Regions from separate parts of the Homo sapiens genome. Here region 1 is linked to region 2. The links come from fine-mapping of genetic effects on gene expression. A gene starts in region 2. The other region holds a variant in brackets. All regions are shown on one strand. Distances are between the middles of the regions.

The links.
Region 1: its variant is fine-mapped to the expression of LINC03023 in liver (GTEx, PIP above 0.99).

What each region holds. Positions count from the first base shown.
Region 1 is chr8:20,561,453-20,578,728 of GRCh38, forward strand. No RefSeq gene overlaps it. Among named protein-coding and RNA genes, the nearest start is that of SNORD3F, 45 kb to the right of the region's middle. The variant C/T (reference allele first, on the strand shown) is at 9,330.
Region 2 is chr8:20,950,232-20,962,552 of GRCh38, forward strand. LINC03023 (long intergenic non-protein coding RNA 3023) reads left to right here and starts at 3,402. Exons shown (of 5, transcript NR_130774.1): 1 at 3,402-3,462; 2 at 3,610-3,844; 3 at 5,454-5,603. It overlaps LOC105379316 (a long non-coding RNA gene), which reads right to left. Exons shown (of 4, transcript XR_007060845.1): 3 at 4,424-4,513; 4 at 2,414-2,685.

The DNA.
Region 1 (17,276 bases), 390 kb before region 2:
TTTATTCCCTTTAGCTCCTGGCCCGGTCAGGATTCCTTCCCAAACTGGAGTCTTAATCACACAGAGCAATTACACGGAAACAGAACAACAAATCGGGATCGATACAGACTTGACTGTTGACTGGAAGAAACAAAATTTATGACTTGACTGGATTATGCTTACCAGCCAAGAATAGCTGTAATTCCAAGCAACCCCACCGACCAGGATCAATCATGGCATTTTATTACTTTGCTAAACCCTGCTAGCTCCCCACCCCACAACCCCCATCCAGTTAGAACCCAATCTCCAAGGAAAATATTGCACTTGTTATCAAATTTTAGAAAGAGAATTTATTGCAAAGGCAGATTGATTTAAAGCCTTCTTCTAAAGGGGAGCAGAGGGAGGTGGAAAGGTAAATTTTGCTTCGTCTTTTAGATTGGTTCTTTTGCTTATCCCTCCTTTTTATGACATAATCTGTTGTAGCATTACCCAGGGTCCTCTGGGCTAAAGCTTCTTGCCTGGCATTAGATAAGGGGGAGATATTGTCTGGGTGTAAAGTTTAAAGCCCGTGGCAAGGGCTCATTTTTCTCATTTCAGGCAAGGGAGAAAGGATATAAAATGAAAAGCAAGCAATCAATAAGGAAGAAAGATAGAGATCTTCCCCAAAAAAGGAAAAAAAGAAATCCTCACCTCACTGATGACTCCTCTAACTAAGACTTTAACAGGCGGATAATGAGCTCATAGATCCTCCGGTTGGGGCAGGGCTGAAGAGCAGACCCCCAATGCCATCATAGTCCACTCCCCCTCTCCTCTTGCATCCTGCAGTAATGGGATGCAACTCCCATTGCGAGCTTTTGGATGTTTTTATAGACAACTCAGCCTTCCTTATTCCTGTCAGTCAACCTTTAAAGTAAGAGCAGAATGGTTAATTACTTATCTGGCAATCAGGATGGGGAATTGTGGTGGTTTGTTCAAATCATGTAATAAATGCTGTAATCCTACCTGCTGAAGTGGAGGTATCTACCCGCCCCCCCCGCCCGGCCCCGTGGCTCATGACAAGATGAAGGAAAAGGTGAAAGTATTCTTTGGTTAATCCTGGAGTTTATGATAGACTAGTCTGATTTAATGGCTCTGCAGTCACTCTGTTGTTAGAAAATCAATATTTTCCTAAGAAAGTGTATGGACTGCCATAAATACACTCCCAGTTGTATGAACCTTGGCTACAGAACTTACATACTGCAGAGACCATAATGAGTGGTGAGGAAACAGCCTCCCAAAGCAGCAGGAAAGCAGAGCAGCCCATAAAGAAGCCTCAGGAGCTGTCTGTGGGTTCAGCTCCTCAGAGACCCCGAGAAGCTCTCCTGCAACCACTAGGGAGAGAGGGGAATCTATGATTGGTTTTCACTGTGGAGTTCTTTTGAGTCACACATTCTGGAAAAATAGAGGGGATCGTAGACAGGGAACGTACCCTCAGGGCCAGACACAATGCTTTCAAGAGGGATAGAGGGGAAAGAACCTCAAGAGAAAGGCAAACGATGTCATGGGATGAACATAGGAGTAGCAATTGGAACACTGAGTGTGAATCCTTCTCTACCACTTTCCTGGGGGGCCGCGAGCCAGTCATACACCCCAGCTTTACAGAGGAGGAAACTGAGGCTGAGATGGGTTTATCACAGCTAATACATGCAACTGTTTTGAGTTTAAAAGAAGGTACATGTTGGACATTGCCGTTTATTTTGGCTCCCCAGCATCAAATCCCGCCTTCTATGTTCAGGAATTTTACATCTCATTGAGTCTTGGTGAGAGTTAGAGCCCTCTGTCTGCTACAGAATCTGAAAATGTACTTCCCAGCATCCTTCACAGAAAGGGCATTTGGGCATTTTCTAGCCTCTTTCACAGGTAGGACACCGCATCCAGTGCAGCTGTGGTCAAACACACCTGCCCCAGATTGGAATCAGCTGCTCGCGTGGTAAAGAAGCAGCAATGGTGAGGAGTTCCCTGGCAGCAGTGATGGTTGTGGAGACCTCTGGATTCTGGGTGCAGCTGTGGGTGACCACTGTCCAATGGCTGCAGCATGGGCAATGCCAGCTGTGGAGTCTGGGGTTCAGCATGGGAGCGTGTTACCTTATAAGACTATCTGTAGATAGATTTTAAATGTCACATCTGCCTCTGCAGGCTTAGAGGTTTTGTGCACATTGTCATACTTAATTTTGTCACAAAGTGGACTCCTTCATCGGAGGGGATGTTTAGAGGTTTGTTATGAAACACGGGATGCTCTGTAAGGCCTCAGATTGTGGAGCTGACAAATGCACTGTGGGTGGGAAAGGCAATGAAACACCCCAAATACATCTGAAATACATCCATCTGGAATCACTGTCTTCTCCAGGAAATAGGGATCCAGTGTGAACATCTTATCACTAAGGGACCATGTGATCTGCTTGAGAGACGGCACCATGTCGGGGGCACAGTATCAATAATTCCTATTGTTGGCAGGTCAGACTTTCAGAAGAGTGGCAACGATCAGGCTTGCTGACACGGAACCCATGCTGCTCAGCCCATGCATGCATATCCTCTACCTCTGCTCTGTGACTGCTCCATGCACAGGCCCATTGTGCAAGAAATGGCTGAGGATGGGGGCTGAAGCACTTCCATGGGATGTGTCCTCATGTCCACTTGCTGGTTGAGAGCATCTTCTCAGGTGAATGCTCTCTTCTCCACACACTCTGTGCCCACTCCCATGAGTCCACCCTGCTTTATTCCCAGGCCTCTTTGTTTCGGATTGTTCAAAGTGACTCCTCCAAGGCCCCCAAGCAATGATTCAATCCATTCGCCACTGCCTAAGGGGAGACAGATATCTTTTCCTCAGGCTGCTTCACTCTCCATTCAGATATTTACTGCTCAAAGTTCTGCCCCCTGGAGGGTTTTCCATGTACCACCATCTTTCAGAACTATTCCTGAGGGGGCTGTGTTATTACAGCAGTCTCTTTTACACTCTTGGAAAAATAGCAAGCTGACCCTATCATGAACCAAGCCTAGGTGTTGTACACTCTAGTCAGCTGAGGAGGCCGGAAATATGAGCCAAAAAAGAGGTTCAGTGCACAGAGGTAGCTGGCATGGGGGTCCAGACCACCCTTCATTGTAGAATGGATTGCTGCTGTGCCCCTTCAACCTTATAACTTAATGTGTCTGAAAATATCCAGCTCATCTTTGGCACCTACAGTAATATAGTCATGGATATTGCATAGCCAGATGACTTAGTAGCATGCCAGGAGCTGCCTTTTCAATAGTGAGTAATGTTCTCCTGTAGATGTCTTGCTCCAAAGCCCTAGGATTCTGCACCTCAACTCTACAATTCAGGCTTTCTAGAAATGCCATTAAGCACTCTTATCTGCCACAAATATGTCTAAAAATCATGGAAGCTGATGAATTATATGGGCAAATCATTAGGGCCACTTGTACCATAACCTATTGCAAAATGCTGTTTGGCCCTGCTCACCACTCAAAACTGACAATTCTAAGTCATCAGGAGTCATAGCAGTATTCCTAAGAGGGACATGTGCTGCCATCAAAAATCCAAAGAAGCCCACAAGTGCTGAATCTTTTTCCAGGTGGTAAGAGATGCAATATACAATAATTTATCCTTTACCTTGGAGAGAATGGCTTGACAGACTGCATCCCACTGGGCCTCTAAAATCTTCAGGGATGGAGTCGGCTCCTTGATCTTTGCAGGTTTACTTCCCAATAACTGGTGCACATGTGTCTTTACAAGGTATCCAGAGATCTTGCTATTTTTCACTCATCGAGTCCAATTAATGTGGTTTCAGTACAGCCACCCAGATGACCCTATTCCAGGCATCCCTTTTCTGACTCTAGCATAGGAAAATTACCAGAGCTGTGAAATCAGCCATATTGAAAATTCTGTGACGTTTGGAAATCAGACTGTGGGCCTGATTTTTGGCAGTCCTCTCTTCATCTGCAGGAGATAAGGCCTTCTTTAAACACTTTCATAAAATGATAAATTTTATACAACCGTGTTGTGTCTTATTTTACTCTATTTATTATCAGTAATGGAACCCTTGTCACATGGCCAGCAAGTGATCTAATTTTAGAATTCCATTCTGAGAGTCTCCTTCTTAATACTACTTCTGGTACCGACTGACTTAAGATTTTCCAAGAAGACCCTGAGACAAGGATATAAGTACCAATATTTTATTTGAAGGAGATGTCAGCTATGCCGGTAAGTAGACAGTGAATGGGAAAAGGTCAATAAAGACTGTGTTTTCAAGCAAGTTTGCACTGTAAGCATCTGGAACATAATTTTTCTGGGCGATCTGTTTCCCTGCCCAAATCTCATGTCAAATTGTAATCCCCAGCATTGGAGGTGGGGCCTGGCAGGAGGTGATTCGATCATGGGGGCACATTTCTCCCTTGGTGCTATTCTTGTGACAGTGAATGAGTTATATAAAAGTGTATGGGACCTCCCTTCTCCTTCCCACCCTGTTGCTCCTGCTCTGGCCTTGTAAGACATGCCTGCTCCCCTTTTGCCTTCCACTATGATTGGAAGTTTGCTGAGGCCTCCCCAGAAACAAGCTGCTATGCTTCCTGTACAGCCTGCAGAACTGTGAGCCAATTTTACCTCTTTTCTTTATAAATTGTCCAGTCTCAGCTATTTCTTTATAGCAATGTGAGAATGGACTAATACAGCAATCTAGAAGCCAGTGTTGAATAAGCACTTCAAGATTATCTTGTCTGAGAGGTAAGAGAGGATGGATATTTGTTTATCAACTCCTCTCAGTCATTGTTTGAGGGCGCCAATGGCTAGAGTGTGACCCAGTGCATATGGGAAGTGGCTGGGTACCCGCAGGACTTGCTTCACTTCTGCTCAGCTATCTCTGTGCAGGACCAGGCCAATGGAGGCAGCGGTGTAAGGTATAGGGTGTGGGGCTATGTCACTGTGTGCCTCTGTGCTGTGCCTAACTTTGAGGGGAAATATACCAAAACAAGCTCTCAGGACAGACTGGCATATAGTAGATGTTCAGTAAATTAATCCTGAGTATTAGAGATCCGAGGGATTTAGGGAAGAAGGGGGCTATCAGAAGTATAGCAGACAAGAAGACTGACATCATTAGAGGGCTGGCCTGTGCTGCCCAAGTGCCAGGGCAAGAGAGTCCATGTGCCCTAGATCTGGGGAGATGTCTTTGTACCAGTCCATGATGCCCAGAGAATCTTTCAGAAAGGAATGAGTCCATTCTCCCTTTTCTATCCCGTTGCTTAGGGCAGGTAGACGGTGCAGGGTGGCTCCCTGGGCAGCAAAGTCTGGTTGAATCGTGAGGCTCAGAGGGCCTCGTTATCTCCTCCAGCCACTTGCCTGGAAGGCTCCTATCCTGGGAAACAAACCTGGGAAGTAGGAAGAGAGGAAGTGGCTGGAGAAAGAATGAGCAATTACACATGGCAAGCACCAGCCCCAAACATGCAATTACTTTTCAAACAGGCTATTTACAGCCCGTCAGACAGAGCCTGCAGGGAGTGGGAATTGTGTAGTCTGAGACTGGACAGGGCTCCGAGAGGCAGGGAAGTGAGCATCAGGGCTGGCTCATTGATGTGTGAGGCAGAGAGACAGACCCACAGCAGGGAGCCAGCAATTGGGAGAGGATGGAAAGGGCAGTCAAGATCCCCTCTCTGATCTGCCGCCTCACCACTGACACTTCTGCAGGAGCCCAGCTCCTCACTGTCCTGGTCAAGTCCACCAGGGCCACCCCCTCTCCAAGACTCCACCTTCACTGTCTTCCCCACCCACTGCCCCTCCTTGTCTTTCTCCTGGTCCTCAGCCTGGTTTCTACCGCCCTGGGCAAAACTCCCCTGAGTGCCCCCACCCACCCCAATAACTTACTTTCTGAACCATTGGAACCTTAATTCTTATTGCCATTCACTTCCCACAGATTGTTTTGTCAGTGTCATCTGTTCCCAGCTAAAATTCATTGTCTTATTTTTCATTTGTGTACTCCTGTGATCTTAGTCTAGTGAACAAGATCACTGAATCACTTCTGACTTGATCACCACATGCCTCCGTTTCCTTGTTCATGAAATGGGATTCAAAATAGTACTTTATTCTTAGGGTTGCTGTGAGGGCTATAGCAGTGACTGCTAGTTACGTGCTTAGCACAGTGCCTGGTTTAGAGTGCAAACTCAGTCAACATGGAACGGACACATGTGAGGCCTTGGCTTGCTAGGGACCTGTTCGGTGTTTCTGGGGCTCAGATAAAACCACGATGGTCAGGTCACTCTTTCACTTCTTCCACATTTTGACTCATTTAAGTTAGAATAGGAAAAATGTATATAATTATAGGATGTATTTTAGAAGAGTTTCTTGCAAGTCTTTTTGGTTTGGAACCATTTAAATTAGTTCTGCATAGTCAAGACCTAAAGACCTGTATTCCAATACCTTTATTGGAACTGCTTATATTAGTATGTATAGACAAGATCTGAAAGTCCTCTTTTGTGCTTACTAGAGAGGAATTTCAGAACTGTTATATATACCCAATACAGGTTTTGGTCAGCCTCATTTTCAAAAGGGATTGTTCCCCAGGGTCATTTACGATTATTAGAGTGAGGCAGATCTTCAAAGGCATGTCTGTGTTAGGGGAAGCAACTGGGACCTTATTGCCATGCTGGGTTGATTGTGCTGAAGATGAGAACATTCGATGATGTCATTTAGGGATGGCCTTGGCAGATACTGCACCTGCTCCTCTTTTAGGTATGGCTCCTCTTAGTTAGATACCGGATTGGGACAGCTGTCCCCTTTGCCTAAGTATAAAGCAACTCTGAGCCCCTCGAGGAAAAACACTGGAGAGCTAAAATCAGAGCAGTGCTTAGATCTTAGCTCAGACTTCATGCTGCATCTCCTCTGTTTGTCTTCCACATCCTTCTCTACCCCAATCTTTGCTCTCAGTCCAGGGACATTGACCTCTGGGGACTGTCTCAATTTGCCCTTTTGCCCTCTGGTTTCTACCTGGGTTTAGCCGATGGGAGGCACCAACAGGAAATCAGAGAGAGAGGTTGGAATAATTATTCCTTTGGTTCTTTCCTTCTGTCCTGCAGATTGGCAGAGGTTGATCTCTCTGTGTAAGGCCACAGCTTCACCAGGGCTGCGGTCACCTATAACTTTCTAGTGTCTTTCTGGCGGCTATTCCCTCCTTTGCCTTGAGAGCCAAGGGATGGGAACAGCCCTTGTTGTCCTGACATATTTCACTACTTCTCTTAATGCTTCTCCTAACTTTGTAAAACAGCCTCTGCATTAAACTTTGCTCAAACATTCAGTTGTTCTCCCCCTGACATCTATGAGGCAGCTTGGTACAAGTGGAAAAGAGTGTAGGTTCTGCAGTGAGATTTTCTGGGTTCATACACCACTTAACATTTTAAGTTTCTCTTTAAAAATTAATTTTAAATCTGTAATTGATATATAATAAGCATGCATATTTATGGGGTACAGTGTGATGTTTCAATACATGTATACATTGTATAATGATCAAATCAGGGTAATTAGCAGATCCATCACTTTAAACATTTATCATTTCTTTGCAGTGACAACATTCAAACTCTTCTAGTTTTCCCAAAATATACACTACATTGTTATTTGCTATAATCACCCTACTGTGCAATAGAACACAAGAACATATTCTTTCAGTCTAACTGTAACTTTGTAACTATCGACCAACCTCTTGCATTACTCTCCTCTCTGCCTCCCAGCCTCTGGTAATCACTATTTACTCTCTAATTCTATGAAATCAACGTTTTAAGATTCCACATATGAGCTAGACATACAGTGTTGGTCTTTCTGTGCCTGGCATATTTCACTTAACATAATGTCCTCCAGGTTCATTCACCCTGTCGCAAATGACAGGATTTCATTCTGTTTTATGGCTGAATAGTGTTCTATTGTGTGTGTGTGTGTGTGTGTGTGTGTGTGTATATATATATATATATAAAATTTTCTGTATTCATTCTTCTGTAGATGGGCATTTAGGTTGATTTCATATCTTGGCTATTGTAAATAGCACTGCAGTAAACACAGGAGTGCACATATCTCTTCAATATACTGATTTCATTTCTTTTGGATATACACCTAGCAATGAAATTGCTGAATCATTTAATAGTTTACATTTTAATTTTTTGAGGTACTTCCATACTATACTATAAAGGCTATAGTTTTTTTACATTCCTACCAATAGTACCTAATAGTTCCCATTTCTCCACATCCTCACCAGCTCTTGTCACATTTTGTTTTTTCGATGATAGCCATCCTAACTGGGGCAGAGTGATATCTCATTGTGGTTTTGAATTGCATTTCCCTGATAATTAATGATGTTGAGGACTTTTTCATGTATCTGTTGGCAATTTGTATGTCTTTTTTTGAGAAATGTCTATTCAGGCTTTTCCCCCTTTTTAAATCTGATGATTATTGTTGTTTGCTATTGAGTTGTTTGAGTTCCTTATATAGTCTGGATATTAACTACTTGTTAGATACACAGTTTTTCTCTCATCCCGTAGGTTGTTTCTCCACTCTATTGTTTCTTTTCCAGTACAGAAGCTTTTTAGTTTGATGTAATCCTATTTGCCTATTTTTGCTTTTGTTGCCTGTGGTTTTGAGGTCTTATTGAAAAAATCTGCACTCAGTCCAATTTTATGCAGTGTTTCTCCAATGTTTTCTTGTAGTAGTTTTATAGTTTCAGGTCTTGCATTTAAGTCTTCAATCTATTTAGAGTTGATTTTTGTATATGGTGAGAGATAGGGGTATAGTTTTATTTATTTATTTATTTATTTATGACAGAGTCTTACTCTGTTACCGAGGCTGGAGTGCAGTGGTGTGATCTTGGCTCACCGCAACCTCCGCCCCCAGGGTTCAAGTGATTCTCCTGCCTCAGCCTCCCGAGTAGCTGGGACTGCGGGTGTGCACCACCATGCCAGCCTATTTTTTTTTTTTTTTTTGTATTTTTAGTAGAGACAGAGTTTCACCATGTTGGCCAGACTGGTCTTGAACTCCTGACCTCAAGTGATCCACCCACCTCAAAGTGCTCAAAGTCTCTCAAAGTGCTGGGATTACAGGTGTGAGCCACTGCACCCAGCCAGGGGTCTAGTTTTAATCTTCTGCAGGTGTATATCCACTTGTCCCATCGCCATTTATTGATGGGATGTCCTTTCTCCAATGTGTGGAAGACATGTGTGGAGTTGAGCGAAGATATTGAACTGTGTAATGGTTAATACTGAGTGTCAACTTGATTGGATTGAAGGATACAAAGTATTGATCCTTTGTGTGTCTGTGAGGGTGTTGCCAAAAGAGATTAATATTTAAG[C/T]CGGTAGGCTGCGGAGGGCAGATTCACCCTTAATCTAGTGGACACAATCTCATCAGCTGCCAGCGAATATAAAGCAGGCAGAAAAAACGTGAAAAGGAGAGACTGGCCTAGCCTCCCAGCCTACATCTTTCTCCTATGCTGGGTGCTTCCTGCCCTCGAACACTAGACTCCAAGTTTTCCAGTTTTGGGACTCAGACTGGCTCTTCTTACTCCTCAGCTTGTAGACAGCCAATTGTGGGACCTTGTGATCATGTAAGTTAATACTTAATAAACTATTCTTTAAATATATATATAATATGTGTGTGTGTGTGTGTGTGTGTGTGTGTGTGTGTGTGTGTGTATCCTATTAATTTTGTCCCTCTAGAGAACCTGACTAATACAAACTGGTATTGAGCTGACCGATCTAAAGAAAAATTTCCAGGGAATAAGATTGGGCAGATAATAGCTAAGAATACTGGAGGATGCTGGGGAGTAGGAGGGGTATAGAAGTATTCTTTTTTTTTTTTTTTTTTTTTTTTTGAGACAAGGTCTCACTCTGTCACCCAGGCTGAAGTGCAGTGGCATGATCATGACTCACTGCAGCCTCAACCTCCTGGGTTCAGGTGATCCTCCCAGCTAAGCCTCCTGAGTAGCTGGAACTAAAGGTGTGCACCACCATGCCCGGCTCATTTTTTTTTCTTGTATGTTTTGTAGAGACAGAGTTTTGTCATGTTACCCAGGCTGGTTTTGAACTCCTGGACTCAAGCAACCCTCCCACCTCAGCCTCCCAAAGTGTTGGGATTACAGGCATGAGACACTGCCTGGCCAGAAGTATTATTTTTGAGTGTGGTTATTTGAAGAAGTATAGGCAGGACTTTTTGGCCAATGTAATATTCCTCCAAAGTGCTGGAAGGCTAGAATTCCATTCAGCTCTCCAATCTTCCAGGCATAGGTGAACTCTATTCTAGACTGGAGTTTCTCGTCCCACATTGCCAATTCAATTTTTCCTCAGTTTGATTCTTCTTAGAGTGGTTGATGAGCTTCTGTTTCTCTTATAATATGTGGGACATCTTGGACCCTCCATCTTACACCTTCCCGACTTACTTACCTGTGACTTTGGCAATTACTGCAACAGCAGGTTGCATGCACAGGTAGTCTGATCAGAGTGGCTAGAGCCTTGTGACTTTTCTCTTACTTTCTGCTCTTGAGCTTCTCTGTGTCTACCTTGGAGGATGCTGTGGGATATTGCTCAGTTGTGCTGGTTCAAATACCCATGTGGAAGAGCTAGGGAGTTAAACAATGTCTGGGCAAATTCTTTACCGGTGGATAAGGAGCCAATGCATGAATATTTCCCTCTCCTTATTGTGGACAATTCTGAAGCAGGGTACACAACTCTTCAAGGGCCTGGTGGGATTGAGTCTCAGTTATTTGCGACTACTGAATCAACTCAGTCATACACACTGGGATTGACTTTTTCTCCTTTCCCTTTTTACTCTTCCCATTCCCTCCAACCCATTCCATAGGATTGCCATCCCAAATAAACTACATACTGGCAAGCCCTTGTCACAAGTTCTGTGTTGTTTTATGCATGATGAATATATTCTAAGCTAAGACATCATTTTATTTGGTATTCAGTTATTATATGCATTTTATGGTTGCATTTTATGCTACTTTAATGAACATAGTTTATACTCTCTTAATAATCCACAAATAGCTGGAAGTGAGCCCTTCATAAATAAGACCACGATTTCAACAATGAGTCTTAATGGCCATCTTCTTCAGTGAGTTACAAATTCCAGCAAGCTTGGCATCTGTTGAAGCAGGATGGTCCAGTGGAAAGAACGATAAAGCGGGAGTCAGGAGCATCAGCTCTTTGATCCAGCCCTATCATTCTCTAATTATATGATTAAAAATACTTGTTTTAACAGCTGTATTGAGATATAACTTATATACCACAATAATCACCCAATTAAGGTGTATAATTCAATGGTTTTGAGTATTTATAGAGTTATACAAACATCTCCATAATCTAATTTTAAAACATCTTTGTTACCCCCCAAATAAATCTTGTGCCCATTAGCAGTCACTCCTCACTCCCCTAATTGTCCCTTCTCACTCCCCAGCTCTTTCCCCCGCCTTCCAGATTCAGGCAGCAACTGATTTACTTTCTATTTCTATAGATTTGCCAATTCTGGACATTTTGTATAAATTGGATCAGGCAGTTTTGGTCTTTTGTGACTAGATCCTTTCACTGTGCAGAAAGTGTTTGATGTTGATCTATACTGTAGTGTTGGCTGTGTGATTCTGAGTAACCACTAACCTCTGTGTCCTGCTTCCTCCTCTGCTCCCTGGAAGAGGTCTCTGAGGTCCTTTCCAGCCCTAGGAGTCTCAGGCAAGCAATGTTAAGTAGCACAGAAACCTAGAGGAACTATGGGCCCAGTGTTTAATTTTTCAGCTATGAGCTAAAAGAAGAGGAACAATGTTTATTGCTGAGCTCCTATTCGACAGTTGATACCCGTGTGTGCACAGAAACCAATTACCTATGAGGAGTAATTGAAATCATTAATACCCACAAACAAATGTGTCTATTCTGCAAGTAATTTGCAGTAACATTTAGTAATTGATAGTAATTTTTAGTAATTAAACACTAAGTAGTTAATTTGCCAAGCTACACAGCCATTTTAATGGGGTTCCTTGGTGTTCCCACAGCAAATCTTAATTACTTAACCCAAGCACCACGAATATTTCTGTCATTTCTGAAAAAATATACAGCATGTGCTATTCTGGGTAAGCTGCAGTAGAGAGGAAGCCAAGGAGAGGAATTATTTTCCTGGGCAGTAGTAATTAAAAGACTGAAGCTATCGTTTGGGCCAATAAAAGGTCGTGGAGTGAATCCCTGTGTGTGTGTGTGTGCGTGTGTGTGTGTGTGTTTGTGTGTGTGTGTATATATATATTTATCTATCTATCTATCTATCTATCTATCTATCTATCTATCTATCTAATCTATCTGTATTTTGTCTCTGCTTCACAGAAAGTCAAAGTGAAATCTGGGTTATAACAACTTATTTCTCTCTCCTCCTTCTCCTAAATGTTTTGGCCCAGACTTTATGAGGTTTGTTCAGGCTATTACAAACCCACGTCTGAGTTGCTTGTGGCAGGGAGCAATCATAGAAACCCACTTTTTTCTTCAGGATACCATCTGCAGTTCTGATTTTGATATTCCCATTCAATAGGCCATTCGTAGTGATTTATTAGCTGTAGAGGACAGATAGTAGCTTGCTCAGCATCTTGCCCTCCTTCCTTTTTCTTCACAGTACCCCAAATTTATTCCGGAATCCATCCCTTTTCCTTGCAGCCTATGTGATTGGGTGAAGCTCTTGCTGGGGTGGATCTTGATTAGTCTAAGCCAGTCATGGTGATTCCACTACAGGCTCTTGCTGGAGACCGGTTCAGGAAGTCAGGCTGCTATTGGTCCGGGAGTGATCATGTGACTCTAGCTGGCTCAGTGAGAGAGAAGAAAAGGGCGTTTCTTTCGCAGGTAGGAGAGAGACTGTCTTCCCTCTCCCTGCCTTTCTGGGTATGAGGAAGGGAGCACATTGGCTGCAGGGGCTGCAGGCAGCCATCTTGACGCCACGTGGGAAACGAGGTCTCAGAACAAGGTCTACCCAAAGATGGATGGAGTCAAGAGAACTGCAGAGAAACTGAACCTAAGTTCTACTGTGCCTAGAGTTCTATTTTCTCAACTTCTAGTCAAGCGAGATGATACATTTTTCTCAGGTTTTTGTCAAGTTTGAACATGGCTGTCTGCCATTTGCAGCCCCAAGTATCTTGACTCATTTGACACCAGTCTTCATCTTTCACCCTAATCCAATTGCTGCATTCCTGAAATAAGTCTCCATACTTGGCTCACGTATTATTGTCACGGCTTGTGCCACTTGTCTCTTTCTGGGGGAGATTCTGCACAAGCAACACTGTGAACTTTCAAGCTCGGCTCCAGGCCCACCTCCTCTGTGGAGCCTTCACTGAGCACCTCAGTCCTCTATGAAATTCTGTAAGTTGTTGTCTGAGCTCCGTATTTGACATTCCTCATTTACAGACAGCATGTACACATCTTCTCAACTACATTCTGCACAACAGTGATGGTGTCATCTGACCTGACAATCCGGAGGGGAAGATGAACTAGACACCCATAGAAACTAACACCAAGAGGTCTTGTCGAGGTAGAAAAGAGAGAGAAGTCTGGCAAACACTGCAGACATTCAGAGGAGGAGGAGGCCATTTTGGACAAGTTTAGCTGGGAAGATGGGGAAGTTTCTTGAAGAGTTAGAACCAAAATGGGAGCTTTAAAATGCAGAGGATAAAGGTTATATGTGAATGTATTCTTTTATTCATTTTGTTATTATTTATTGAACATCTACTCTATACCAAGCATCGTGCCAATTTTTTCCTCCCATGTATCTCGTCTTATTTAAATTTCAAAACAACATCTATGGAATATATATGGTTTCCATTTTACAAATGGAGATACTTGTCATCAGAGAGGTATATAATTTTTCCCCAAAGTTGGGAATAGGCATCAAACCTAGATCTCTTCACCCAAAGTTCAAAGCAGTTTCTATACCTCACAGCTACAGTCCAACTCTCATCAAATGGGGTCAGCAAATAGCGTCAGCAAACATTTTTTCTAAAGGCCAGATAGCAAATATTTTAGGTTTTATGGGCCAGTCTCTGTTACAGCTACACCATTCTGCTGCTGTAGTAGAACAGCAGCTATAGACAATGTGTAAATAATACATGTTCCAATAAAACTTTACTTAGAGCATTAACATATAAATTTAACATAATTTTCACATGTCGCAAAACAATATTTCTTCTTTTTTTTTGACTCCTAACCACAAAAAAACGTAAAAACAGGCAGTAGGCCAGAGTTGGCCATAGTTTGCTGACCCCCTTGTTTTTTCCTGCCAGGATATTTTTATTTTTTATTTTATTTATTTATTTTTTTTGAGATGGAGTCTTGCTCTGTCGCCCAGGCTGGAGTGCAGTGGTGTGATCTTGGCTCACTGCAAGCTCCGCCTCCTGGGTTTACACCATTCTCCTGCCTCAGCCTCCCGAGTAGCTGGGACTACAGGCGCCTGCCACCACGCCCAGCTAATTTTTTGTATTTTTAGTAGAGACGGGGTTTCACCGTGTTAGCCAGGATGGTCTCGATCTCCTGACCTCGTGATCTGCCCGCCTCAGCCTCCCAAAGTGCTGGATTACAGGCATGAGCCACCGCGCCCGGCCCCTGCCAGGATATTTTTAATTTCGTGTAGCAAGAACATTTAACATAAAGTCTACGCTTTTAGCAAATTATGACGTTTACAGCACAGTATTATTAACTTGAGGCATGATGTTTTACAGCAGATCTCTAGAACTTACTCATCTTGCATTATTGAAGCTTTATAACATTGAATAGCCATGCCCCATTCCCTTTCCCTGTAGCCTCTGGCAGCCCTCATTCTACTCTCTGTTCCTATAAGTTTGACTATTTTAGAGACCTCATGTGAGTGAAATCCTACAGTATTTGTCCTTCTGTGACTGGCTTATTTTACTTAGCATAGTGCCTTCCAGGTTCACCTATGTTCCCAGGACTTCAAATCATGAGACTATGGAGAAGTAGGCAGGGAGGTTGAGGGACACTTACTTCTCCCACGTCTCCCTCTCTCCCATGCCCAATCCTCACCACCTCACAGAGCTCACGGATGATAGTAGAAACCTCCCCAGCAGCGTTGGCCTTTATATCCCGGTGTGCTCCATTGGCTGGCTCCAACCGGTTTATCAGCTCAAGACTGTTAATTTAGCAATCTGCAAAGGTCCCAGATGAAAAGCTTTCGCCTGCTCTCTTTCTAGAGCCTGACATAATTAGCTACATTTCAGCCCCACCTTCTATTTTCTCCTGTAACGAGCAGTGCCAATCCTGAATCACTTTAAGGGAGCGAGCTGCCCCTTGGTATCAATTAAAAGGGAAATGCTTTTCAATGCATAAACTATAACAATTGTGAACAGGTACAAAGAAAAATCTAGAGGTTCTGGCACTGCTAACAGACCATGGCACTTTGCAGAGATTGTCTTACACGCTTTTGGAGGAAAAACAAAAACAGGTCCAGCATGCTAGGTAATATGTTACTCCTGAGGGTAAAGGCTGCGCTTGAAAATCTACAAGCCAGAGATTTGGGAGCAGTCCAGTGAGCAGGCCATTCGTGTGTGCTGAAATAGTTCAGCTGGGTCTTCTTGTCCTCTCAGATGAAGAAACCATGTACAGCCCTAGTGAGTCACGTCTGGGAGAAATGATTTACGATGAGTGTTTTAGCCTGGTGTGATGTTACATCTCTCTCATTTTCCTCCCCTGAAGTGAACAATCATGCAAGCCTTTTCCTAGGTAGGGGGTGACGGGGAGGTAGTGGGAGGCTTCATTAATCTCTGGGTTCTCCAGGAAAGCCAATTTGATCATCGTGGAATATCAAGCACTCTGAGTGTATTGTTGCTTGTTAGCTTGGATGTGTGCCCTCCAGAAACTCCATGCTGGGAAGACTAGTCCACGTGCTAGGGCTGGATGTGAGAGGAGGGGCTGGGAGAGGAGGGGTGTGGTTGCCAATCTATTCAAATTATACCTGCAGCCAAGCCTTGTGTGGATCAGGTAGATACCTGTTAACAGAGTCACCCAGGCAAAACTGGGATGCTGGCAGGGTTATTTTTTGGGTCCTCCAGCTGATTCTTTGAAGTCTTGTCATCTCTTTGAGTCATCCTGTCCTTAATTTTCTGAGATTGGGAGCAGTCATTTACATGTTAGTGTCAGTGCCTTTTGGCACCGGGACATCTGTTTCTCTCTTACTTCTGGTGTTAAAGAAAAAATTATTTGATGATACTGTACTTGTTAAAGCATGGTAAGTTATATGGTTTGGCTGTGTCCATACCCAAAATCTCATCTTTAATTATAATTCCCATAGTCCCCACGTGCCAAAGGAGAGACCAACTGAAGGTAATAGAATCGTGAAGGGTGATTTTCCCTTCTATTCTCATGATAGTGAGTGAGTTCTCACGAGATCTGATGGTTTTATAAGTGTGTGGTAGTGCGTCTTGTGTTCTTTTTCTTCCTGCCGACTTGCAGAGAAGGTGCATTGCTTCCCTTCACCTTCCACCTCATGTGCAAGCTTCTTGAGGCCTCCCCAGCCAAGCAGAACTGTGAGTAAGTTAAACCTATTTCCTTTATAAAGTACCCAGTCTTGGGCAGTTCAGTTTAGCAGTGTGAGAACGGACTAATACAGTAAGGAAGACTTTATTCAGGACAATCACAATAGCTATATAACCACTGCAATGGGGTCTTATAGTGGGGGAGAGAGACTGGGCTCAACTCTGAATACAGCATGAACAAGTGGAAATGTACAGCCAAGGAGCAGTGCGGGGCTTAGTGGATGGAAAATTGTTAAGAGTAAGCATCAGGGGCGCTATAGTTTGAATGTCCCTCCCAAAACTTCTGTTGAAGTTTAATTGCTATTGTGATAATATTAAGAGATGAGACCTTTAAAAGGTGATTAGGTAATAAGGGCTCCACCTTCATGAATGGATTAATGTCAGTACCATGAGAGTGAGCAACTGATAAAAGGATAAGTTTGTACTTGATTTTCTGTCTGTCACACTCTCAATTCTACTTTCTGCTATGAGATGAGCCTCGCCAAATGCTGCACCATGTTCTTCACTTCTCAGCTTTCAGAAAGCTGAGCAAAATACATTTCTATTTCTTAAAAATGACCCAGTCTGTTGTATTGTTATAGCAGGGGAAAACAAACTAAGACAAGGGGTAAAGACAATTCTGTATTAACCAATCTCACATGATTCTGGTTAAAGACAGCCCAGGTGATCAGACTTCACCTAAGGAATGGTAGAAGATGAAAATCTGATCAGGGCCGGGTGTGGTGGCTCACATCT
Region 2 (12,321 bases):
CAACTGGAAATATTTAAGGTAATAGTTGTTCCATCAGCCTGGGTCCCTGAATGACCCTGAGGAATAGAGTCCTTTACTGGCTTGACTTGGACATATAGTATGAGCAATCAATCCATTGTTATTGTTTTAAGTTATTAAGCTTTTGGAGTTGTTTATTCCATATCAACAAGCAGCCTAGCCTAACTGAAATATATTATTGTACCAGAATTCATTCAATCATTCTTTGCCACGAACAAGAGTACTCCAAGAACATCCCTTCACATATGTCATTAGACACTGGTGTGAGTCTAGACAAATAGAGAAAAATATGGAAGGATACATAAAAGGTTAACATGGGTTCCATGGTTTTGTGGAGGATTTGTGGCTGAGAATTATTAGTATGGAGGAGGTTGGAGAGAGGAAGAAGATACAAAGAAAAGAAAGAGAGAGAGAAAGAAAATGAAAAGCTATATATAATATAATCACGTTTATGTAATTCTATAAAATTATAAATCTTTATGTAGTCCTACATAAACATATCTATATCTGTGTTTGAATTTTTAAAAAATAAATACTTAAATTACTAATTTATAAAAAGAAAGCCACCAGACCATTTAAGACCCTGATGAAAATGCAAATGTTATTTTGGATGCTCAAATACTAGGGGATTATGGAGCAGTTATTTAGACTTCTGCTCCGGTCACATTAAGGGATTAGTAACTGCATGCTGATGGAAAGAGTGAAAGCATAGCATTCAGGGCAGCTTGGTGTTGATGCTGGGGAAGAGGATGGGTGGCGTGGGGGACGGAAAGAGCTGTGGTGCCTTTTGATACTAGGCTAAAAATGGTACCTCAGAGGGAGAAGGAATAGCAAGAGGGCTTTGGGAAAGCAGGTGAGGATATTGATTTGAAGGAGGGAGGTACATGATTGAAGGAGGGAGGTGCATGAGCAGAGCTAGCAAGACTAAACTAGCCATCATCAACATATACCTGTGAGATCACCTGGTCTATCATCATTTTATAAGAAGGAGCTATTTTCTTTCAGATTATCTCCTGTAACTAGCACAATGCCTGGCTTGTCAGAGTAAGAACCCACAAAGCATTTGATGAGAGACTGTGTGTGTGTGTGTGTGTGTGTGTGTGAGAAAGAAAGAAGCAGGGAAGGGACTTGATTACATAGCTTATCAGTTGCAGAGCCAGGAGTAAAATTCAGACGCAGGCTCATTTTAGCTCCAGATTCTTCTAGGAATACTTGAAAGAGATCCACAGAGAGATAAGAGGAAGGGAAAGAGAGAAGGGAAGGAAGAAGGAAGGGAGGGAGACAGCGCTCTCTTTCTCTCTCTCTCTCCCTCCTTCTCTGTCTCTTTTTCCCCCTTCCCCTCTCCCAGAAGTGGAGGTGCATTGTAGGAGGTGCATTGTATTGAGGAGAACGACACCAGCGGGCCCTTCTCCAGTAATTCAGGTTGTGTAACAGAAGGACACTCCTCCTTCTGTATGTGCTCTGAAAGGACCCCCAGTGTCAGGAGCCTCTTAACTCACTGTCCATGAGCACTGGCCCCCTTTGGTTTTAACAGCCTACCAGGCCCTGGAATCTGACCTTGTCAAGCACCCCATGGGGTCAGGCAGTCTCCCAGTCCTCTCTGGACTCAACTGTCTGAAAAGGATTGGCCTGTAATTCCAACAAAATAGATTGTGAATATGTTGCTGAGGGAGTGCTTTTTTTTCTGTAGCCTTTCTGTAGTATGTGCGTTTTCCCCCAGAAAGAGGATCTTTGGAGCAATCCTCATGTCTTTCTTTTCCCTGGAAAGAGATCCTCAGAGCTATCTTCCTTTCCACAACTGACCACATCCTGAAGATAATATCTCCTGGACTGGCTATGCTAACTCTTCATGAAATGTAGAGAACTGGCCAAGGATTCGAAAGTGGTTTAGCAGAGGATCTGATAAATTCATCTATACGAAGGTGTTAGGGTCTGATAACCCTTTAACGTGTTATCTTTCCAAGCAGACTTGCATTATTATAGAGCACAGACAAAGTAAATTGTTATGCATCAGCTGATAAGGCAGTAGATGCTGGCTCAATTTTCCAAACATGAATATGTTTGATGTAAGTGGAACATAGAAACTAGGTGGTTAAGTATTAGATGATTTGGGATGTGGTAAGATACAGTGGATACACGTTATTAATTAAGAATTGGGTTTGGATTGTGTATCAAATGGTATGCTTTTACCCAGAAATAATAGATTACAGAACTAAAGGTGGCTGAAAGATTGAGGAAATTTTACTATATTATATAACAAGAACTCCAGTTTGGTTAATTTAATAGCAGGAATGTTTCCTCTTTCTGTTGTACCCCATATGATTGATTGCCAGGTGCTATAGCCTGTTCTATGTATTATGAAAATCTTAATTACAGAAAATATCTCTCCTTTCACTCCTTGGGCAACTTTTTTTAATAGAAGAGGCTTTACAGCATCCCTTTGTATTAATCAACATGGACTTACAGCCATAGAAATATCACCAGAATTCTATGGTCAAATATAATTAAGGCTTATTTCTTGCTCAGGTCATATTCTGGTTCAAACAGACTGGAGTGAGGAGAATGTTCTGTTCCATGAAGACATTCAGGGATCCAGGCTCCTTCTATTTGGTAGCTGCAGCGTCTTCTGGGGTTTCAGAATAACATGCTGGATCCTCTGCACCTGCCCTGTAGATGGAAGGAAACGTAAGACATCCTCTCAGTTCTCATTGGTGATGTGTGAGTCCCAAGCTTATGAATAAATGAGTCACTGTCAAGAGAATGAAAATCATCAGACTGGTTTATGTTGTGCACAAACCCTAAGGTGGCCCCCCAATATTGCCTGTCTTCTGGTATCCGCACTATCCGCGCCTTTGTATAATCCCTCCTGCCCTGAGTGTGAGATAGGAGACTTTTTCTAACCAATGGAAGGTGGCAAAGGTGTGTGAGTCACATCCTTGAGTATGTTTTGTTAGAATGTCACGTTTGTGATTTTATTACGTCACTTTATATAAGGCTCTGTCTCCCTAGGATTTTTTGCTTGCTGGCTTGATGAATTAAGCCAGGTGGAAAGGTTTTCTTTAAGTGGGCAGCCTCAAGCCAACAGCCAGCAAGGAATAAAAGCCCTATATTCCACAACCTAAGAAAATAAATTCTTCCAACAACCTGAGTAAGGTTGGAAGCTGATTCTTCTCCAGACTCCCAGATGAGAACACAGGCAGGCTGACTCTTGAGTCCAGCCTTGTGGAACCCAGAGAAGAGGGCCCAGGTAAGCCATGGCTAGACTCCTGACTGACAGAAATTGTGACATCACACATGTGTTATTTTAAGCTACTAAGTTGGTGGTAATTTGTTGTGCAACAATAGAATACTCATATAGCTTAGCTGAATCATGATTAACCACTGGAAGAAGAAGGAAGCCAAAGTATCTGATGCACTGGAGAATGAAAACCCGTTCAAAATCAGGTTCTTACAGGAAGGACAAGGGACACTTGGCTATATGTAGACCACAGACAGTATTTGATATAGTGTGTCTGCATTCTACTATATATATATATATATATATATTTTACATATATAAATGGAGGATCTTACATTATTTTGTTTTAACAGAAGTATAGAGAAGTTTTCTGTAAAATGGAAATGAGTATCATGAAGTTTTAAATGAACAGTGTAAAACAGAAGACATCAGCATTCATTAGGTCCCAGACCTCTTTGAGAATCTGATGAAATTCTGGACAACCTCTCCTCCCACAAACAAGATGTACTAGAATACCTACACATAAAATGTTGCATTCAATTTTGGAATGTGAAGAGATCATTTGAAGCCGATCCAGAGGCCTCTAAGGTAGGTATGTACTATACAGGGCTTGGAGACCTGGACTGCTCTGGTCATGCAGATGTGAGAGGGTGATATCAGTAGAGAGTTGTAGTGAGTAAGAAAATGTTCTCAGGAAACCTCAGCTTGTCGTTATATGGCAGAAACATGTTCAGATGTGTGACTCAGGGATTACTTAATATAGTTGGGGTTGGAAAGAATGAAGAGAGTATCCCAGGCATCAGGGCTGATGGGCAAGGATGGAGACAGAACCTTCTGGATCAGCCTGAGTCAGGAAGCAGCTCAGGATACAGAAAAGCCAGGGCTCTTGAGTTAAGGAGGGCACTGATGCAGTGCAAAGAGGAGAAGGTGAGAGAGCAGAGGAATAAGGGTGGAAGGACCAAGAGATACACCTGCCAGGGGGACTAGGGTATTAGCACCTCCGCCTTTCCTGTGCTGGGGTGAGAAGGAGGAAAAAGAAAGGACTAGTAGAAGCTGTTTCTAAGGGATCTCTGGCTTCTCCAGGAGAATTGCTTAACTTTGTTTTCGATTCAATAGCAATCCAAAAAAATTAATATAAGCATTTTTCCCGACCATATAGATAACTACCTTAAAACCAGCCATGGATTTCATTGTCCCCATTCGCCTTGGCATTGTGGTCATGTCTGTAACAATTAGCACTACAATCATTGACGCAGCCTAGATAGAAAAGAACAGAGGGGAAATTGCAATGTAAATGGCACACTTCTGCCAAGTGAAAACCAAATGACTTCATAGATGCTGGTGTGTTCGTGGGAGAATTGAACTTTCACAAGGCAGGTGGAAGCAGAGGCAAGCCAAACTCAGAGGACCTGTTGGATGTGCTCATGTCCTGGGTGGTTGACTGAGTTTTAGCAAAGCAATACCGACTGTAATATTGAGTTAATTTTGTTAATTTGAATTGTTTGGATTCTGTCATCTTCTTTGTATTTAATCTTTAAATTTGTTTTGGGTTTGTGGCTGCCACAGACAGCCTGCTCTTCTCTTTCTGGACATGTGGTAAAATGCCACGGTGGGGCCCCCTTCTGTTGTGCAGAACACATGATTAGTTCTGGCCAGTGAGTTGTGAGTGCGAAGTGACACTTCATAGCATTTAGCTGCAGTGTGAGTCTCTCCAGTACCGCTTTTGCCTCTAGCAACGTTTGAGATTGCACTAAGTATCTCCCTGTGTGCTGCTCCAGGTGCGTCCCAACTCCTCTGTGCCTTCGCTGGAAGCAGGTCTGGAGAAAATGGGTCCATGGTCTCCCTTCCATTCTAACTTCCGGTTGGATTTGGCCAATGGGGCGTTCTGGCAGGAAACTGCAGGGCAGGAGGCGAATGGGGTCAAAAGAGTAGGCATAAGTCTCTTGGCTCCGTGTGCCAGGTCCATTTGGGTTGGCTGCAACCCTCTGTCAGTCAGTCACTGTCCAGGTGCTGGTAACTGCTTCCCCACCTTGTCCCTTCAGGGTAAGGGTGGCTAGGCATTTCTAGCCTGCTGGTACTAAACTATAACTTCTTACCACTTTGCCTAACCCCCCTCTTTGCCTGGTAAGTAGTACAAATAAATAATAAACTTCTCCTCAAAGTCTTTAGTTTAGGTGTCCTCTTTGTCTCTTGCCAGGACTTGACTGGTGCAGTATTGGTGGCTGCTGGGTCAGATGAGCTCCCTGCTATTCCAAGAAACAATACATGTTTGCAGCCACTAAGATTTGAGGACTTTTGTTATTACTGCCTATCCTGACAGACTCAGGTGCTACAACTATTTAAGGGCATAAGTATAATAAATTAATATCTAGTTTTATGTTTTCAGATGTCTTAAAACTATTTAAGGGGATCCACGCAAAATGTTGTTCCCTTAAAAGAGGGCACATCTCTCTCACGTGGAGAAATACTGGTAAGAGGAAAAGACTTTCAAGTCAACCAACTTGATGTGGTGTGCAGGTGCTGCAATTTACTTCAGACATTGCATCTATAAAAGAAAGATAAGGTCTCGGCTGGCAAGATGGCCTAAGAGGAACAGCTCCAGTCTGCAGCTCCCAGCAAGATTGATGCAGAAGGCAGGTGATTTCTGCATTTCCAACTGAGGTACCCAGTTCATCTCACTGGGACTGGTTAGACACTGGGTGCAGCCCACAGAGGGCAAACCAAAACAGGGTGGGGCATTGAGCATGAGGAACCGTGCACTCCGGCCCAGATACTGTGCTTTTCCCATGGCATTCACAACCCGCAGACCAGGAGACCCCCTCTGGTGCCTACCCCATCAGGACCCTGGGTTTCAAGTACAAAACTGGGAAGCCATCTGGGCAGACACTGAACTAGCTGCAAGAGCTGTTTTTTTGTTCATACCCTAGTGGCACCTGGAACACCAGCATGACAACCATTCACTCCCCTGGAAAGGGTGCTGAAGCCAGGGAGCCAAGTGGTCTGGCTAGGCAGGTCCTACTCCCACAGAGCCAGCAAACTAAGATCCACTGGCTTGAAATTCTCACTGCCAGCACAGCAGCAGCCTGAGATCAACCTGGGACAGTCGAGCTTGGGGAGGGGCATCTGCCATTGCTGAGGCTTGAGAAGGTGGTTTTACCCCCCCCCCAGTGTAAACAAAGCCACCTGGAAGTTCAAACTGGGTGGAGCCCACTCAGCTCAGCAAGGCTACTGTGGCCAGACTGCCAGATTTCTCCTCTCTGGGTTAGGGCATCTTTGAAAAGAAGGCAGCAGCCCCAGTCAACCTATAGATTAAAACCCCCTTCTCCCTGGGACAGAAAACCTGGGGGAAGCGGCAGCCATGGGCACGCTTCAGCAGACTTAAATGTCCCTGCCTGATGGCTCTGAAGAGAGCATCGGACCTCCCAGCACAGCGTTCAAGCTCTGCTAAGGGTCAGACTGCATCCTGAAGTTGGGTACCTGATGCCCCTGTATCCTTGACTGGAAGACACCTCCCAGTAGGGGCTGACAGACACGTCATACAGGAAAGCTCTGGCTGGCATCTGGCAGATGCCCCTCCAGGATGAAGCTTCCAAAGGAAAGAACAGGCAGCAATCTTTGCTGTTCTGCAGCTTCTGCTGGTAATACCCAGGCAAATGGGGTCTGGAGTGGACCTCCAGGAAACTCCAGCAGACCTGCAGCAGAGGGGCCTGATTATTAGAAGGAAAACTAACAAACAGAAAGGAATAGCAGGTCCACTGAAAGACCCCATCTGAAGGTCACCAACATAAATCCACAAAGATGGGGAGAAACCAGAGCGAGAAGGCTGAAAATTACAAAAATCAGAATGCCTCTTCTCTGCCAAAGGATCACAACTCCTTGCCAGCAAGGGAATAAAACTGGGTGGAGAAACTGACAGAAGTAGGCTTCAGAAGGTGGGTAATAACAAACTCCTCTGAGCTAAAGGAGCATGTTCTAACCCACTGCAAGGAAGCTAAGAACCTTGAGAAAAGGTTAGACAAATTGCTAACTAGAATAACCAGTTTAGAGAAGAACATAAATGGCCTGATGTAGCTGAAAAACACAGCACGTGGACTTCATGAAGCATACCTAAGTATCAATAGCCAACTAAGTATCAATAGCCAAATCAATCAAGTGGAAGAAAGGATATCAGAGATTAAAGATCAAGTTAATGAAATAAAGAGAGAAGACAAGATTAGAGAAAAAAGAATAAAAAGGAACTAATAAAGCCTCCAAGAAATATGGGACTGTGAAAAGACCAAATCTACATTTGATTGGTGTACCTGAAAGGAACGGGGAGAATGGAACCAAGTTGGAAAACACTCTGCAGGATATTATCCAGGAGAACTTCCCCAACCTAGCAGGTCAGGCCAACATTCAAATTCAGGAAATACAGAGAATGCCACAAAGATACTCCTCGAGAAGAGCAACTCCAAGACACATAATTGTCAGATTCACCAAGGTTGAAATAAAAGAAAAAATGCTAAGGGCAGCCAGAGAGAAAGGTTGGGTTACTCACAAAGGGAAGCCCATCAGGCTAACAGTGGATCTCTCTGCAGAAACCCTACAAGCCAAAAGACAGTCAGGGCCAATATTTAACATTCTTAAAGAAAAGAATTTCCACCGCCGAATTTTGTATCTAGCCAAAGTAAGCTTCAGAAGTGAAGGAGAAATAAAATCCTTTATAGACAAGCAAATGCTGAGAGATTTTGTCACCACCAGGCCCACCTTACAAGAACTCCTGAAGGAAGCACTCAACGTGCAGTTTTGCCACTGCAAAAACCATCGACACTATGAAGAAACTGCATCAACTAATGGGCAAAATAGACAGGATCAAATTCACACATAACAATATTAACCTTAAGTGTAAATGGGCTAAATGCCCCCAGTGAAAAGACACAGACTGGCAAATTGGATAAAGAGTCAAGACCCATCTCTGTGCTGTATTCAGGAGACCCATCTCACATGCAAAGACACACATAGACTCAAAATAAAGGGATGGAGGAATATTTACCAAGCAAATGGAAAGCACAAAAAAAAAAAAGCAGGAGTTGAAATCCTAATCTCTGATAAAACAGACTTTAAACCAACAAAGAAGGCCATTACATAATGGTAAAGGGATCAATGCAACAAGAAGAGCTAACTATCCTAAATATATATGCACCCAATACAGCAGTACCCAGAATCATAAAGCAAGTCCTTAGAGACCTACAAAGAGACTTAGACTCCCACACAATAATAATGGGAGACTTTAACACCCCACTTTCAACATTAGATAGATCAACAAGAGAGAAAATTAACAAGGATATTCAGGACTTGAACTCAGCTCTGGACCAAGAAGACCTAATAGACATCTACAGAACTGTCCACCCCAAATCAGCAGAATATACATTATTCTCAGCACCACATAGCACTTACTTATTCCAAAATTGACCACATAGTTGGAAGTAAAGCACTCCTCAGCAAATGTAAAAGAAAGAACAGAAATCATAACAAACAGTCTTTCAAACCACAATGCAATCAAATTAGAACTCAGGATTAAGAAACTCACTCAAAACCACACAACTACATGGAAACTGAACAACATGCTCCTGAGTGACTACTGGGTAAATAACAAAATGAAGGCAGAAATAAAGATGTTCTTTGAAACCAATGAGAATGAAGACACAACGTACCAGAATCTCTAGGACACATTTAAAGCAGTGTGTAGAGTGAAATTTATAGCACTAAATGCCCACAAGAGAAAGCAAGAAAGATCTAAAGTTGACACCCTAACACCAAAATTAAAAGAACTAGAGAAGCAACAGCAAACAAATTCAAAAGCCAGCAGAAGACAAGAAATAACTAAGATCAGCGCAGAAGTGAAGGACATAGAGACATGAAAAACCCTTCAAAAACTCAATGCATCCAGGAGATGGTGTTTTGAAAAGATAAACAAAATAGATAGATAGACCGCTAGCCCGACTAATAAGACAAGAGAGAAGAATCAAATAGATGCAATAAAAAATGATATAGGGGATATCACCACTGATTGATCTCCCAGAAATACACACTACCAACAGAGAATACTATAAACACCTCTATGCAAATAAACTAGAAAATCTAGAAGAAATGGATAAGTTCCTGGACATACACCCTCCCAAGACTAAACCAGGAAGAAGTCAAACCCCTGAATAGACCAATAACAAGTTCTGAAATTGAGGCAGTAATTTAATAGCCTACCAATCAAAAAAAGTCCAGGACCAGACGGATTCACAGCTGAATTCTTGCAGAGGTTCAAAGAGGAGCTGGTACCATTCCTTCTGAAACTATTCCAAACAATAGAAAAAGAGGGAATCCTCCCTAAGTCATTTTATGAGGCCAGCATCATCCTGATACCAAAACCTGGCAGAGAAGCAACAAAAAAAGAAAATTTCAGGCCAATATCCTTGATGAACATGAATGGTGAAAATCCTTAATATAATGCAGGAAAACCAAATCCAGCAGCACATCAAAAAGCTTATCCACCACGATGATCAAGTTGGCTTTATACCTGGGATGCAAGGCTGGTTCAACATATGGAAATCACTAAACGTAATCCACCATGTAAACAGAACCAAAGACAAAAACCACATGATTATCTCAACAGATGCAGAAAAGGCCTTTGACAAAATTCAACACCCCTTCATGCTAAAAACTCTCAATAAACTAGGTATCAATGGAACATATCTCAAAATAATAAGAGCTATTTATGACAAATCCACAGCCAATATCATACTGAATGGGCAAAAACTGGAAGCATTCCCTTTGAAAACTGGCACAAGACAAGGATACCCTCTCTTACCACTCCTATTCAACATAGTGTTGGAAGTTCTGGCCAGGGCAATCAGGCAAGAGAAAGAAATAAAGGGTATTCAAATAGGAAGAGAGGAAGTCAAATTGTGTCTGTTTGCAGATGACATGATAGTATATTTAGAAAACCCCACTGTCTCAGCCCAAAATCTCCTTAAGCTGATAAGCAACTTTAGCAAAGTCTTAGGGTACAAAATCGATGTGCAGAAATCACGAGCATTCCTATACACAAATAACAGACAAACAGCCAAACCATGAGTGAACTCCTATTCACAATTGCTTCAAAGAGAATAAAATACCTAGGAATCCAATTTACAAGGGATGTGAAGGACCTCTTCAAGGAGAACTACAAACCACTGTTCAAGGAAGCAAGAGAGGACACAAACAAATGGAAAAACATTCCATGCTCATGGACAGGAAAAATCAATATCATGAAAATGGCCATACTGCCCAAAGTAATTTATAGATTCAATGCTATCCCCATTACGCTACCATTGACTTTCTTCACAGAATTGGAAAAAACTACTTTAAAGTTCATATGTAACCAAAAAAGAGCCTGCAGAGCCAAGACAAGCCTAAGCAAAAAGAACAAAGTTGGAGCCATCATGCTACCTGACTTCAAACTATACTACAAGGCTACAGTAACCAAAACAGCATGGTACTGGTGCCAAAACAGATATATAGACCAATGGAACAGAACAGAGGCCTCAGAAGTGACACCACACATCTACAACCATCTGATCTTTGACAAACCTGACACAAACAAGCAATGGGGAAACGATTCTCTATTTAATAAATGATGTAGGTAAAACTGACTAGTCATATGAAGAAAACTGAAACTGGACCCTTTCCTTACACCTTATACAAAAATCAACTCAAGGTGGATTAAAGACTCAAACGTTAAGGACTAAAATCATAAAAATCCTAGGAAAAAACCTAGGCAACACCATTCAGGACATAGGCATGGGCAAAGACTTCACGTCTAAAACACCAAAAGCAATGGCAACAAAAGCCAAAATTGACAAATGGGATCTAATTAAACTAAAGAGCTTCTGCACAGCAAAAGAAACTATCATCAGAGTGAACAGACAACCTACAGAATGGGAGAAAATTTTTGCCATCTATCCATCTGACAAAGGGCTAATATCTAAAATCTACAAAGAACTTAAACAAATTTTCAAGAAAAAAAACCCCCGTCAAAAAGTGGGCAAAGGATATGGACAGATGCTTTTCAAAAGAAGATATTTATGCAGCCAACAAACATTTGAAAAATGCTCATTATCACTAGTCATTAGAGAAATGCAAATCAAAACCACAATGAGATACCATCTCCTGCCAGCTAGAATGGTAGTCATTAAGTCAGGAAACAACAGATGCTGGAGAGGATGTGGAGAAACAGGAACGGTTTTACACTGTTGGTGGGAGTGTAAAGTAGTTCAACCATTGTGGAAGACAGTATGGCAATTCCTCAAAATACCATTTGACCCAGCAATCCCATTACTGGGCCAAAGGATTATAAATTATTCTACTATAAAGACACATGCACATGTATGTTTATTGTGGCACTATTCACAATAGCAAAAATTTGGAACCAACCCAAATGTCCATCAATGATAGACTGGATAAAGAAAATGTGGCACATATACACCATGGAATACTATGCAGCCATAAAAAAGGATGAGTTCATGTCCTTTGCAGGAACATGGACATAGAAACCATCATTCTCAGCAAACTAACACAAGAACAGAAAACCAACCACCACATGTTCTCACTGATAAGTGGGAGTTGAACAATGAGAAGACATGGACACAGGGAGGGGAACATCACACAGTGGGGCCTGTTGGGGGATGGCTAGGGGAGGGATAGCATTAGGAGAAATACTTAATGTAGGTGACAGGTTGATGGGTGCAGCAAACTACCATGGCACGTGTGTACCTGTGTAACAAACCTGCACATTCTGCATATGTACCCCAGAACTTAAAGTATAATTAATAAATAATGAATCCAACTCTTAGGAATGTAAGGTTTAGATAATGCATCTAAGACGCTCAGCAGATGACTTGGCATCTAGCATTTGCTCTATAAATGATGGCTAATATTAACTCATCAGTGATAGCTACAATTAAATTGTTACTAACAATAGCCTAAAGGATTATTGCCTAGAGAGTAACATATGGAGTAATCAGGCAGGGGATGAGGGAAAAGAAGGAGTTAGC